Linked DNA regions of Homo sapiens. The protein of the gene in region 1 interacts with the protein of each later gene in a pairwise test. Each region holds a gene or a part of one and is shown in the gene's direction. Other genes may lie near its edges.

Region 1 (5,011 bases):
ACCTCCTCGGTTCAAGCGATTCTCTCGCATCAGCCTCCAGAGTAGCTGGGATTACAGGCGCGCACCACCATGCCTGGATAATTTTTGTATTATTACTAGAGATGGGGTTTCACCACGTTGGCCAGGCTGGTCTTGAACTCCTGAACTCCTGACCTCAAGTGATCCACCTGCCTCAGCCTCTTAAAGAGCTGGAATTATAGGTGTGAGCCACTGCACCAGGCCCTGTTCAACTTTTAATGCTAAGATTCATTTGTTGTTGTTTCACAAGTGATTAGGCAGAGGTCTTTTATATTAATTTACCCATTTTATTTGTAAGAGAGTCTCATATTAAGGAAGCATAATATATGACAATCCAAATACAGTACAAATTTGGTTAATTTTGATTTTGTTAAATAATTAATCACAGGGGTCCTTCAAATTGTGAGCTCCTCTGGTTATACTTATGTTTTACCTCTGGTTATACTTAATTTCAAACAAATGAAATTTCATTCTATTCATGATATTTCAGAAGCAGATCTGTTGCACAAAATAAAGCATACCTATAAATTTTCTTTTTTTAAAAAAAAGTCTCTGTTCACTCTATTTTCTATTATTTTTCTCTTTTTAAAATTTGAATTTTATTGTGGCAAGTCCACTTAACATGAGATTTACCCTCTTAACAGATTTTTATGTGTAAAATACAATATTGTTCACCATGGGTAAATGTTGCACAGCAGATCTCTGGAACTTATTCATTTTGCACTACTGAAATTTTATACCTGTTGATTAGTATCTCCCCATTTCCCTCTCTCCCCTGTCCTGTTACCCATGGTTCTGTTCTTTGCTTCTTTGAGTTTGAGTATTTTGATACCTCATGTAATCTTCATTCTATTTTCTAACTTTGACAATGTTCTGACAAATTTGCTTTCCGGATTGGAGCACTGTATAGTGAAAATTGAAAATCTTGGTTATTTTCTACAGATTCCCACTATTTTACCTTGAGCAGACACTTATCTTGAAGGGTCTCAGATTTGTCACTTGTAGAATGGGGAATATAAACCTGATAATGGTCCCTTTCAGTTCTAAAGTTATATCAGTTGAAAATACATGTGTCACTTATGGTAACGGGTAGAGAACTGGCTCACTGAACAGCATATGGATATTATAAAGTGGTTTTTTTTAATCCTTTCTGCAGACAGTTACTTTATACTTTATTCAAATGGATTATTGTGAAGTACATGTTAGCGGACTTTGTACCTTTTAAAAATGTATGTATTTGGTGTAATGTAGAAATATAGAAATTTATTAAGTATGATTTATTTCAATGTTAAGCATGAGAAAATATGCTCCGAAAGGTTAGATAGCTTGCCTAAATGACAAGCTTGTATTTCAAGCAGAACTTTCTGAATCAAAAGACTCCAAGACGAATGCCCAGCTTTCAAAAACTGTCTAACCAAAATAAATCCTAAGATTCACCTTCATACTAAAATTATTTAAAAATAGTTTATTTTAAATTAATATTCACTTAAAATGTATTTATCATGCAATACTTTAAAGTGTCTGGGAAATGAAAATATCCAAAGATCAAAGAACACCATGTTTTCAAACTTCAAAAATGTTATCAGTGACCTAAACAATTTTTAAAATTTTCATAGAGCCTATGAAAAATGTACTTGCAAATGGCTACTTTCTGACTAGGAATAGAATGGGGAGAGTATTTAGTCCAACAATGATAGACTGGATTAAGAAAATGTGGCACATATACACCATGGAACACTATGCAGCCATAAAAAATGATGAGTTCATGTCCTTTGTAGGGACATGGATGAAATTGGAAAACATCATTCTCAGTAAACTATCGCAAGAACAAAAAACCAAACACCGCATATTCTCACTCATAGGTGGGAATTGAACAATGAGATCACATGGACACAGGAAGGGGAATATCACACTCTGGGGACTGTTGTGGGGTGGGGGGAGGGGGGAGGGATAGCACTGGGAGATATACCTAATGCTAGATGACGAGTTAGTGGGTGCAGTGCACCAGCATGGCACATGTATACATATGTAACTAACCTGCACAATGTGCACATGTACCCTAAAACTTAAAGTATAATAAAAAAAATAAAAAAAAGTTTGAGGTGTTTAAAGTATGCAAAAAAAAAAAAAGAAATAAATCACTGACACACTTTGTCCACTTTGCAATGTGAAAATGTTTACTCACCAACATGTTTTCTTTGATCTTACAGTTGTTATTAATTGTGATTGGAGCTATAGCAGTTGTCGCAGTTTTACAACCCTACATCTTTGTTGCAACAGTGCCAGTGATAGTGGCTTTTATTATGTTGAGAGCATATTTCCTCCAAACCTCACAGCAACTCAAACAACTGGAATCTGAAGGTATGACAGTGAATGTGCGATACTCATCTTGTAAAAAAGCTATAAGAGCTATTTGAGATTCTTTATTGTTAATCTACTTAAAAAAAATTCTGCTTTTAAACTTTTACATCATATAACAATAATTTTTTTCTACATGCATGTGTATATAAAAGGAAACTATATTACAAAGTACACATGGATTTTTTTTCTTAATTAATGACCATGTGACTTCATTTTGGTTTTAAAATAGGTATATAGAATCTTACCACAGTTGGTGTACAGGACATTCATTTATAATAAACTTATATCAGTCAAATTAAACAAGGATAGTGCTGCTATTACTAAAGGTTTCTCTGGGTTCCCAAATGATACTTGACCAAATTTGTCCCTTTGGCTTGTTGTCTTCAGACACCCTTTCTTCATGTGTTGGAGCTGCCATTTCGTGTGCCCCCAAACTCTACTTGAGCTGTTAGGGAATCACATTTTGCAGTGACAGCCTTAGTGTGGGTGCATTTTCAGGCAATACTTTTTCAGTATATTTCTGCTTTGTAGATTATTAGCTAAATCAAGTCACATAAACTTCCTTAATTTAGATACTTGAAAAAATTGTCTTAAAAGAAAATTTTTTTAGTAAGAATTAATTTAGAATTAGCCAGAAAACTCCCAGTGGTAGCCAAGAAAGAGGAATAAATATTGGTGGTAATTTTTTAAGTTCCCATCTCTGGTAGCCAAGTAAAAAAAGAGGGTAACTCATTAATAAAATAACAAATCATATCTATTCAAAGAATGGCACCAGTGTGAAAAAAAGCTTTTTAACCAATGACATTTGTGATATGATTATTCTAATTTAGTCTTTTTCAGGTACAAGATATTATGAAATTACATTTTGTGTTTATGTTATTTGCAATGTTTTCTATGGAAATATTTCACAGGCAGGAGTCCAATTTTCACTCATCTTGTTACAAGCTTAAAAGGACTATGGACACTTCGTGCCTTCGGACGGCAGCCTTACTTTGAAACTCTGTTCCACAAAGCTCTGAATTTACATACTGCCAACTGGTTCTTGTACCTGTCAACACTGCGCTGGTTCCAAATGAGAATAGAAATGATTTTTGTCATCTTCTTCATTGCTGTTACCTTCATTTCCATTTTAACAACAGGTACTATGAACTCATTAACTTTAGCTAAGCATTTAAGTAAAAAATTTTCAATGAATAAAATGCTGCATTCTATAGGTTATCAATTTTTGATATCTTTAGAGTTTAGTAATTAACAAATTTGTTGGTTTATTATTGAACAAGTGATTTCTTTGAATTTCCATTGTTTTATTGTTAAACAAATAATTTCCTTGAAATCGGATATATATATATATATGTATATATATATATATATATATATATATATACATATATATATATAGTATTATCCCTGTTTTCACAGTTTTAAAAACCGATGCACACAGATTGTCAGATAGCAATTCTGTGATTGAAGGGGAAATATGTCACCTCTTCATACTCATATTGGTGAAGGGTCCTAGCTTCAAAATTAATAGATTCCTAAAGAGGGGAAATGAAACATCCGCATTTACACACACACACACACACACACACACAGAGTTCCTCTTGTCGGTAAGTTTTGTTTTTTTTAAATCTCTACTAGATAAAATTTGTTATCTAATTGTGAGTTTTACACAAAGAAAAACTGTCACAGAAAAGAAAGACAGTGTCACATTTTTCAAAAGAAAAAGAAGAAAAGAAAGTGCCATGTTTTTCAAATACAAATGTTCTGGATTGATTTTAGGATCTTTAGTGAAAAACAAAGTATTTCATAATAAGTAAAATAAAAATCTATGTAGGTAAATTTGTTTCTCTAATTTAAGAATTTGAATTTCTGAGTATTTATGATAAGTGTTGAAATAACTTCTTATATGTGACAGTGAATACTGGCAGAGCAAATGCCAAATCAATGCCAAATCTGTAGGATCATTTGATTGTAGGAACAGAATTCTACTCAAACCGAAAGCAGGCATTTGCTGGAGTTACAGAAAGGCCTCATGGAACACCGAGAAGGTGGTGCCATTCGACTCTTAAAGAAGCTGCAACAGGCACAAGAGAGTCAGCTGCAGCTCTTCTTCTTGAGTCTATATCTGTCCTGGGTCCATTCCTTTTTGTGGTTGCTTCATTCCTTTCTCTCTCTGAAGACTGGTTTTTCTGGTCTACCAGGGCTATGCCACATTGACTTTATGTAGTGTCTCCATTCTGGCCTCCTGAATTTACAGGAGAGTTCCTCTGTACAAACTCAAAGTCCTGGAGAGAACAGAAAACAGCTTCCTTTTGGCTCAGGGGTCCAACTGCAGTCTACTCTGCTGCTATGAGGATAGTGGGTTCACCACCTTTGTTGTTCTCTCAGCTAGGGCAGTGGGAAATGACTCTATGAAAGGAATATACATGGGCAGGCAAATGTACTAATCCTCATCAGTACTGTAATTTTAAGCAACTTTAAAAAATTCTTTTAAGTTATTTGAAAATAAGATCAAAGAAGGCTGAATTACATAAATGAAGATTTGTTAACAATTAATTCAAACCAATATAACACATGCTATAACATGGTTGAGTGTGATTGAGTCTTGATTTATTAGGGGCAATAATCAAAA
Region 2 (5,011 bases), on another chromosome or scaffold:
TTTTTTCTTTTTGAGATGGAGTTTCGCTCTTGTTGCCTAGGCTGGAGTGCAATGGCACAATCTCTGCTCACCGCCACCTCCACCTCCCAGGTTCAAGCGATTCTCCTGCCTCAGCCTCCCGAGTAGCTGGGATTACAGGCATGTGCCACTACGCCCAGCGCGGTGACTCACACCTGTAATTCCAGCACTTTGGGAAGCCGAGGCGGGTGGATCACCCGAGGTCAAGTGTTCGAGACCAGCCTGGCCAACATAGTGAAACCCCGTCTCTATTAAAAATACAAAAAATTAGCTGGGCATGGTGGTGGATGCCAGTAGTCCCAGCTACTCAGGAGGGTGAGGCAGGAGAATTGCTTGAACCTGGGAGGCAGAGGTTGCAGTGAGCCGAGATCGCACCATTGCATTTCAGCCTGGGCAACAAGAGTGAAACTCCTCCTAAAAAATAAATAAATAAATAAATAAAAATAATAATTTTGTATTTTTAGTAGAGACGGAGGTTCTGCATGTTGGTCAGGCTGGTCTCGAAATCCTGACCTCAGGTGATCCGCCCACTTCAGCCTCCCAAAGTGTTGGGATTACAGGTGTGAGCCACCGAGCTGGGCCCTGACTTGTTTATTCACTTATTTATTCAAGAAATGTATATTGGTTATCTGTTCTATGACAGGCTTATTGCCAAGTGCTGGAGAAACAGATGAAAAGGCAGAATGTTCTTCCTCTCGAGGAGTTTAAAGTCCTTGAGATGACTCCCATTCAAATAATAACTTTATTCAGTCATTCAGAGAAATTTATTGAGCATCTATTATATGTAGAGTTTTGCTAAATATTGCAGATATGGCAGTGACCAAGATAGATATAGATCCTGAAATTAAAGAGTTTTTATTCTAGTGGGAAAAAAACTCATATTAATTACACAATTAGTTAACTAGGTAATCATAGTAGTGTTGAATGCTTTATAGAAGTATAGGAGTGTCAGAGGCCAGAAAAGGTTTATAGAGGAGGTGACATGCTTAATATGGCAGTTACATAATATGAAAATTTACTCCAGTATATAAAATAGCAAAATTGTTCCAGAATGTATTTGATGTTTGCCTAATTTTTTTTTTTCATCTTTTTAAATGAGGTCGAGGCTTGAAGAGTGGAGAGAACTTTAAGTTGTTATATGACTTGGCAGATCAACTACATGCTGCAGGTAAAGTTATTTTCCTTAGTAGAAAGATATTCCCTTTTTGTTGGAAATATTTTTTCTTCATTATTTCATTTTTGTGTAAGTCTTTCAGCCCTACAAATTATTTTACTTTTCCGGATTTTTCAGTTTTTCTCTCTGAACCAGTTTTTCTTAAGCCTCCAAGTAAATGGTATATAGCATTCAGTGAGGAGAAGGCCTCCTAGTATCTCTTACCTTTGCCTAATCTTAGTAGGTTTTCTTTTTTCTTCACTTTAAAAATAATGAAATGGGCCAGGCGCAGTGACACACACCTGTAATCCTAGCACTTTAGGTTGCTGAGGCAGGAGGACTGCTTGAGCCCAGGAATTTGAGACCAGCCCTAGCAATGTAGTGAGACCCCATCTCTACAAAACGTTTAAAAATTAGCCAGGCATATTGGTGTGTGCTTGTAGTCCCAGGTACTCAGGAGGCTGAGGTGGGAGGATTGCTTGAGCTTGAGAGGTGGAGGCGACAGTGCACTGTGGTCGTGCCACTGCATTCCAGTCTGGGCAACAGAGTGAGACCCTGTCTCAAAAATAATAAAAGACAAAATAATGAAATGTTAGTTTCAGTGCCTACTTCAGATTCAGGAATACCCTGGTTTTTCATCTTTTTTTTGGTGGTCTTAATATAACTCTTATACAAATAGAAATACATTTAAAGTTTTTAAGTTTGTAGTTAAAAATATAGAATTGTAGTTAACCATTTATAGGTAAGGTAGAACCTATTGCTAAAAGTACATTGATGAGAAGGGAGTGATGTTTTTTGAAAAACCAAAAAAATTTAAGCCAGGCACAGTAGCATGTGTCTGTAATCCCAGTTACTTGGGAGGCTGAGTTAGGAGGATTGCTTGAACCTAGGAATTTGAGACCAGCCTAGGCAACCTAATTGAGACCCTGTTTTGAAAAAAAATCTTTTTAAAGACATTTGATTATTTTTGAATTACACAATCACTACAATGAATATATATTAAAATGTCCCAATTCTGTCATCTCACCCTCCTTTTAAGACTTTAACATATAACTTTCGAGGGTTTTCCTGTAACTTTCTGTGGTTTTCCTGTGCGAAATTTCTATTACATAACACGTGTACCCATAGAAACAGTAATAGTTTTGTCAGAATAAAGGCATTATATTGACACTGTATAATCAGATGGTAGTATTTCAGGGTTTATTTTCATTCCTTCTTTCTTTGAACAAGTATTTATCAAGTGTCTGCCATATTCCAGGTACTATTTTAGGTGCTATTAGTTTATTTTGGCTACAGTAATAAGTTACTACAAACTTGGTGGCTTAAAGCAACAAAGTTTTTCTCTCACAGCTTTGGAGGCCAGAGATGTGTTGAAGTGTTAGCAGGGGCCATACTCCCTCTGGGGGCTCTAGGAGATAATCTGTTATTTTCCTCTTCCAGCTTCTGGTGGCTACTCTGATATCCCTGGGCTTGTGGCCACATCACTACAACCTCTGCCTCTGTCTTCATATCATCTTCTCTGTGGGACTGCATTCAGTCTCCTTCTGTGTCCCTCTTATAAGGATACATGGCAGGCGTGGTGGCTCATACCTGTAATGCCAGCACTTTGGGAGGCCAGGGTGGGCGGATCACCTGAGGTCCGGAGTTTGAGACTAGCCTGGCCAACGTGGTGAAACCCCATCTGTACCAAAAATATAAAAATTAGTTTGATGTGGTGGTGCACACCTGTAATCCCAGCTACTTGTGAGGCTGAGGCAGGAGAATTCCTTGAACCTAGAAGGCGGAGGTTGCAGTAAGCTGAGACTGTGCCACTGTACTCCAGCCTGGGTAACAGAGTGAGATGCCGTCTGGAAAAAAAAAAAAAAAAAAAAAAAGGATACGTGTAATGGCATTTAGGGCCCATGTAGATAATCCAGGATAAACTCCCTCTCAAGATCCTTAGCTTTATATATATCTGCTGCCACGTAGGTAATATTCACAGGTTCTGGGTATTAGGATGTGAATATATCATTGGAGGGGCCATTTTCTTGCCTACTACAGACACTTAACACCATAGATTAGTAAATAATATAATATGGGCCAGGCGTGGTGGCTTACGCCTGTAATCACCTGAGGTCAGGAGTTTGAGACCAGCCTGGCCAACATGGGGAAACCCCGTCTCTACTAAAAAATACAAAAATTAGCTGGGCGCAGTGATACGTGCCTATAGTCCCAGCTACTTGGGAGGCTAAGGCAGGAGAAACGCTTGAACCTGGGAGGCAGAGGTTGCAGTGAGCAGAAATCATGTCACTGCACCCTAGCCTGGGCAACAGGGCGAGACTCTGTCTCAAAAAAAAAAAAAAATGTTAGAGAGTCGTAAGTGTTAGGGAGACTAATAGGATGGGTTATGGGGGGTGGAGAATTGAAGGGAAAGATTGAAGTTTAAAATAAGATAGCCAGATTTGGCCTTAATGAGAAAGAGACATCTGGCTGGGTGTGGTGGCTCATGCCTGGAATCCCAGCACTTTGGGAGGCCAAGGCGGGCGGATCACTTGAGGCCAGGAGTTCAAGACCAGTCTGGCCCACGTGGTGAAACCCCGCCTCTACTAAAAATATAAAAATTAGCTAGGTGGGCGGATTTCTTGAGGCCAGGAATTCAAGACCAGCCTGGCCGACATGGTGAAACCCCACCTCTACTAAAAATACAAAAATTAGATGGGTATGGTGGCACGTACCTGTAGTCCTAGCTACTCAGGAGGCTGAGGCGGCAGGATCACTTGAACCATGAGGTGGAGGTTGCAGTGAGCTAAGATTGTGCCACTGTACTCCGGCCTGGGTGACAGAGACACTGTCTGAAAAAAAAAAAAAAAAAAAAGACATCTGAACAAAGGTTTGAAGGAGGTGAGGAAGCGACCCATGAGGAGATCTGAGGGAGAGTGTTCCAGACCAGAGCAACTAGTAAAGTGCACAGAGCCTGTCTAACGCAGGAACACATCTGGCCTATTTGACGAATAGGAAGGAGGCCAGTGTTGGAATGGAAAGTGCAAAAGAGAAAGTAGCAAGAGATAAAATTGGGAGGCAACACAAGACCAGATCACATAGGGCCTTATAGGACATTGTAGAGATTGCTCTTTCTCTGAATGAAATGGGGAACCATTTCAAGGTTTGAGCAGAAGAATGACATGATCTAACACATTTTTAAAGGATCACTTTGGCTGCAGTTTTGTGAATAAGCTGTAGGGGGTAAGTATAGTAATGGGGAGATCAATTAGCAGGCTATATCAGTCGTCTAGGTGGGAGATACTCATAGTTTGGACCAGGGTAGTTGCAGTTGATGTGGGGAGAAATTGTCAGTTTTGAGATATATATTTGAAGGTAGAGCCATCAGGATTTCCCGACAGATTGGATGTGGATTATGAGAGAAAGTATTTTTCCTGGCGAGTGGTAGGATGGAGTTACAGTTAGCTGAGATAAGGAATATCTCGAGTGAAGCAGTTTCCAGGGAGAGATCAGGAGTTCAGTTTTGGGCATATTAACCTTTGAGATGTCTAATAACAGACATCTGAGTAGACATGTCAGTTAAGCAGTTGGTATAGGAATGTGAAGTTCCATGGAGAAGTTTGGGCTAGAGGTACATATTTGAGAATCAGTTCATTTGGATGATATTGAAAGCCATGAGACTGGATGAAATTACCAAGGGAGGGAGTGTAGATAAAAAAAGAGGTCCCAGGCCAGGTGCAGTGGTGTGAGCCTGTAGTCCCTGCTACTCTGGAGGCTGAGGCAGGAGGATCTCTTGAGCCCAGGAGTTTGAGGCTGTATTGTGTTATGATTGTGCCTGTGAATAGCTACTGCATTACAGCC

The links.
Region 2: the proteins of CFTR (region 1) and ETFA interact in binary tests that used the Homo sapiens proteins (3 or more experiments, as listed by UniProt).

What each region holds. Positions count from the first base shown.
Region 1 is NC_000007.14:117,608,291-117,613,301, forward strand, and holds part of CFTR (cystic fibrosis transmembrane conductance regulator), read left to right. Parts: intron 1-2,228; coding exon 2,229-2,379; intron 2,380-3,290; coding exon 3,291-3,518; intron 3,519-5,011. UniProt on the Homo sapiens protein: Epithelial ion channel that plays an important role in the regulation of epithelial ion and water transport and fluid homeostasis. Mediates the transport of chloride ions across the cell membrane.
Region 2 is NC_000015.10:76,279,932-76,284,942, reverse strand, and holds part of ETFA (electron transfer flavoprotein subunit alpha, mitochondrial), read left to right. Parts: intron 1-1,117; coding exon 1,118-1,186; intron 1,187-5,011. UniProt on the Homo sapiens protein: Heterodimeric electron transfer flavoprotein that accepts electrons from several mitochondrial dehydrogenases, including acyl-CoA dehydrogenases, glutaryl-CoA and sarcosine dehydrogenase.